Linked DNA regions of Homo sapiens: region 1 is linked to region 2. The links come from fine-mapping of genetic effects on gene expression. Tissue or cell type: whole blood. Region 2 holds a variant in brackets; the other region holds the start of a gene. All regions are shown on one strand. Distances are between the middles of the regions.

Region 1 (2,689 bases), 88 kb before region 2:
TCTAATGTTGGGCTGGGTGCGTTGGCTCATGCCTGTAATCCCAGCACTTTGGGAGGCTGAGGCGGGCGGATCACCTGAGGTCAGGTGTTCAAGACCAGCCTGGCCAACACAGTGAAACCTCGTCTCTACTAAAAATACAAAAATTAGCCAGGCATGGTGGCATGCTCCTGTAGTCCCAGCTACTGGGGAGGCTGAGGCAGGAGAATCACTTGAACTGGGGAGGTGGAGATTACAGTGAGCTGAGATCACGCCACTGCACTCCAGCCTGGGCGACAGAGCGAGACTCCATCTCAAAATAAATAAATAAATAAATAAAATCTAGTGTTGAAATTTGATCCCCAATGTTGGAGGTGGGGCCTGGTGGGAAGTGTCTGGGTCATGTGGGTAGATCCTTTATGAATGACTTGGTGCTAGTCTCATGGAACTGAGTGAGTTCTTAGTCTTTGTTTTCATGAGAACTGGTCATGGAAAAGAGCCTGGCACCTCCCACCTCTCTCTCTTCCTCTGTCTTGCACACATTGGCTCTCCTTTGTCTTCTGCCATGAGTGGAAGCTTCCTGAGGCCCTCATCAAAAGCGGGTGGTGGTGCCATGTTTCTTTTACAGCCTGTGAAACTGTGAAACTAACAAACCTCTTTTCTTTATAAATTACCCAGCCTCAGGTATTGCTTTATAGCAACACAAACAAACTAAGACATATGGCAATGGCGTGGGTTGCTTGCAGGGTACCTTGGCTGCTACAGAAAGAAAAAGTCTCTGTAGAGACTCACTGTCAGTGACTCACGGAGCAGAAGGCTGGCCTCAGAGCCTGGACAGAGGGTAGCTGTCACTGCTTAACTGCAGTTCAGCTCAAGCATATGGCTCTCTGTGGGACCAGCACTGAAGGCTGGGGGATAAGTGAGGCAGGTCTTGTCACACCTTCAGGGTATCTGGATTCACCAAAGTGGCTCAGGTCAGGACCAATGAATAGAGGTTTGTTCGTCAAGATAAAAAGATTCTGGCTTCCTGTTTTCAGGCAATGCCAACGATTGAATTCCCTCTACATTGACCACCCTTGCTGAAGTTGTCTTAATTGACCTAGCAGCCAACTGACCTCATATTCTGGCACAGGCTCTGACTCCTTTTGCCTATCTGCCCTGCTCTGATACTACAAAGAGACCCCCCCACCCCAGCCCTCTGGGGCCTCATTAGGGGCTTAGAGGGCAGGCGTGGGTCAGGCGAGCATTCCTGGAGAACACAGTCCTCAGTGGTTCAGGATATGAGCATAGCTCAGAGAGCTGTTGACATTATCAGCCTGGCCTGGGAGAGGGGGACCCGCACAGGGTGGTGCACAGGGCCCGCAGGGAATTTACAGCGGCGTCCGCGGCGATGGGCTCTCAGTGCCTTGGAAGACCGGTAGAGGCAGGTTCTGTCTCTCCCGGCCTGGCAAGCAGAGGGCCGCGGCGCAGGGCAGAGTGCCGCGGCGCAGGGCAAAGCTCCAGTGCGCAGGCTCGCGGGCGCAGGTGGGATTGGATAGCGACGAAGGCCGGCAGGCTAGGCGTGGACCCAACTGGCGAGGCTGCTGGGGTTGCAGCGGGACAGTTGGGGCGGCCCCGCAGGCCCAGGTGAGGAAAGGTGGCTGGGGGCCAGGTGGGCAGGGGGCGTGCGGGAGGCCGCTGCGCCGGGCTGTGGGAGGGCGGGCGTGAAGAAGGAAGATGCCGTTGACGTGCAGGGGTCACAAGGCGTGGGTTGTGGCCCTGGCCCGGGAGACTGCCCGGGTGGGCCTGAGCTGTGAAGTAGTGTCGCTGCAGCCAGAGGGCAGGACGTGATTCTGGCCGTGTGATGCCAGCTGCACTGTGACGCGTGTTGGGGCGCCTATGCGAGACGGGACCGGGACAGGAACCCTGTGGCTCTGTGGTAGGGGAATGCCACCAACTCCCTGAGGAGCAGCCGTGTGGTATGATTGGTAAGAAGCCATCATCAGGCGCTGAGACAGCCCAGAACTTCCCAATGACTCAAGGGCGGGTGGAGGTCGAGGGACCTAGAAAGAAAGAACATGAATTCATCAATCCATTCAGCAGCTATTTTGAACGCCTCCTGTGTGCCAGATGCTGTTCTAGAAGCTCAGAATATCTATGAACGCGATAGGCAATGCCCCCATATGCCAAGGCCCTCATATGCTAGCCTTGACTCAAGGAAAACTGTAGGATGGGGTAGGTTTCATTTTTGGAAGTTGTGGAATCAGTACTTATGTTTTGAATGTGTTAGGTTTGAGATGCCCAGTAGGTTTTTCCCAATAGAAGACATAAGCATAGCTGGGAAGAATTTTGCAGAGGACTCTGACCACCTACCACCTACAGGTGCCATGAATATTTAGCACATTTGATTTTTCACATTACCTATTCACCTTCTCTCCATTTATCAGTCACCTGGTAGTTTTTTTTAGTATGGTGAAATATACACACATAAATTATCTAGTAGATATTTGGGTTGAGATATCAAATGTGCTTTTTAGAAATTTAAATCTGAAGTTCTGGAGGATGTCGGGCTAGAGTTAACCTTTGGAATCGGCATCATATACTGTACATAGTATTTAAAATATATGGGACTGGTGAAGACATCTAGTTTAATAGTGTACACAAAGAAGAGGAGGCGAAGCCAAAAAAGGGAGGGAGGTAGTGGTCAACCATGTTGAATGTTACCGTATAAGAT
Region 2 (2,689 bases):
CTTCCTTTTTGATCTGTATACAATCTGTATACATCCTACTTATTTTCTGGTCTTATTGCTGTACTAAAATGTCAAGTGCTATATTGAATAAGAGTGGTGAGAGCAGGCGTTGTTGCCATCACTGATCTCAGAGGGAAAGCAAACTAAAATTTTATGTTTTGTGAAAGACCCAATGAAGAGGATAAAAAAAAAAAAACAAGCTAGAGAGTAACTATATGCAGGGCACATATCCAACAAAGGCCTTGGATCTAGAATTTATAAGGAACCCTCAAAAATCAATAGTTAAAAAAAAAAGAAAAACAGAAATGGGTAAAAGACATGAACAGACAGTTCACCAAAGAGAACATACAGATGACAAGCACGTGAAAAGATGCTCAGCTTCATTAGCCCTTGGGGAAATGCTAATTAAAACCAGGATGGAGTAGCATTACACACCTATCAGAAAGGCTTATGTAAAAATAGTGACAGCACCCCATGCTGATGAAGATTTGGAAATGCTGGTGAGGATTTGGAGAATTATGTGAAGATTTGGAGAAACTGTATTGCTCATACATTACCCATATGTATGAGACATTGGGAATGTAGACTGGTACCAGCCACTACGGAAAACAATTGAGCAGTTTCTTGGAAAGAAAACAAAAACAAAACTAACTAAAGTTGACATATAACCCAGCAATAGCACTCTTGGGGCATTTATCCCAGATTAATCAAAATTTATGTTCATACAGAAACCTGTATGTAAATGTTCATAGCAGATTATATTCACAGTAGCCAAAAACCAGAACAACCCAGATGTCCTTCAACAAATTGATGGTTAAATAAAGTGGCACATATCCACATCATGGAATATTATTTAGCAATAAAAGGAAGCAAACTATTGTTACACCAACAACTTGGATGGATCTCCAAGTTATTCTGGGTGGGAAAAAAGTCAATCACAAAAGGTTAGCTATTGTGCAATTTTATTCATATAGTGAATTTTGCTATTTCTTCTTGAAATAGCAAAAGCATAGAGAAGGAGAACAGATTACTATTTTCCAAGGGTTAGAGATTGGGGTGGATGAGTGTGACTCTATAGGGATAGCAGGAGGAAGTCTTGTGGTGGAACAGCTCTGTATCTGGACTGTGGTTATAGTTACATGAATCTTCACATATGATATAATTGCATGGAGCTCTGTGCATGCACACATGCACACATACACACTCTCACACACTCACTAACAGTTGCATGTAAAACTGGTGAAATCTGAATTAAGCTTTGTGGATTGTCCCAATGTCAGTTTCCTGGTTTTGATATTATATCTTGTTAAACAAGATGACACCATCTGGGAAACTGGGTGAAAGATACACAGGGCCACCCTGTACAACTTCCTGTATATCTGTATTATAAAATAAAATTTTTTTATGGCAGATATGGTGGCTGACGCCTATAATCCCAGACCTTAGGAGGCCAAGGCTGAGGATCACTTTAGGCCAGGAGTTTGAAACCAGCCTGGGTAACAAAAATAAAAATAAAAAAGTTAGCTGGGCATGGTGGAACGCACCTATAGTTCTTGCTACTCAGGAGGTTGAGGAGGGAGGATTGTAGTTTGAGATTGCAGTGAAATATGATGACACCGCTGTACTCCAGCAGCTGAGACAACAGAGCAAGACCCTGTCTCTAAAAAAC[T/A]AAAAGTTTTTTCAAAGGGTTAATTAAAAATTTTAATTATAAAAATGATAAGCTATGAAAATAAAGGAATGCTTATTGTTTTCTATTTTTATATGCTTTGGGGTTACAGTTGACAACATTTACATGTGTCCACAATGTCTTGCTGAAACGACTCATTCTCAGCTTGTCCCACATGTGACTCTCCAGGCAAGTTCAGCAACACCTGAGCTGGTCTATATCCTGTTCAGTTGAGCACACTTCTCAGTGCTGTGCCAGTGTCAAATTGCCATAAGAGTTTCTGAGCACTTACTCCCAGTTTCTTGACTCATTGTGGACCAGCAACAGACCTTTGTAGGCCTGCACCAACTCAATGACCACACCCAGCTGTACTGGTGTCCACACACAGTCTGGAATCTAGTGTTGGGTCGACTGTTGCTCCCAGTTTCCGTGTGAGTTGACAGGGATCTTCATATAAGAAACAGATATGCTATTGTTGGGGCCAGAGAAAGTCTTCTGTGCCTTTCCAGAATTACAGTGCTGCTTTAAGTTCTGCCTTTGGATAACAAACAGGGACACACAAGGGCAAATTTATTACTTATTTTGGAGAGCATTTCTTATTATGAATGATTGCTTCCTGCTTTCTCCTGAAAACCTATTAAAATAGTCTTCCTTATCCATTGGGCTAAGTTAAAAATAGCACATTTTCTTGTGAGTGAAAATGAGATCTTTCTGATTAAATCTTGACATCTCTTTCACCCTTTTTGGCAATCTGTGAATTTGTGTTTTTCCCCCATGTGGATCATACAAAATTACTGTCATCTTATTACAGTTCAACATCATGGATATAGTGGCCCAAATGAGAGAACAACGTTCTGGCATGGTTCAAACGAAGGTAAGCTTTCACCACATACATAATAATAAGAATAATGAATATAAAGATTAACATTGCATAACACTTTACCACTTAAAAGCTCTTTTATTGACATAATCTCATTGAATTCCTACTGTTTGAGGTAGACATTAGTTTTGCTCTGATTCTCT

Evidence for each region. PIP is the estimated chance that this variant, and not a neighbour inherited with it, causes the effect.
Region 1: PTPN20 starts here. The variant in region 2 is fine-mapped to the expression of PTPN20 in whole blood (TOPMed, PIP above 0.99). The same link has a PIP of 0.9 or more in nasal epithelium.

What each region holds. Positions count from the first base shown.
Region 1 is chr10:46,909,900-46,912,588 of GRCh38, forward strand. PTPN20 (protein tyrosine phosphatase non-receptor type 20) reads left to right here and starts at 1,529. Exons shown (of 11, transcript NM_001042357.5): 1 at 1,529-1,602.
Region 2 is chr10:46,997,435-47,000,123 of GRCh38, forward strand. PTPN20 (protein tyrosine phosphatase non-receptor type 20) reads left to right here. Exons shown (of 11, transcript NM_001042357.5): 10 at 2,478-2,540. Among named protein-coding and RNA genes, the nearest start is that of PTPN20, 87 kb to the left of the region's middle. The variant T/A (reference allele first, on the strand shown) is at 1,670.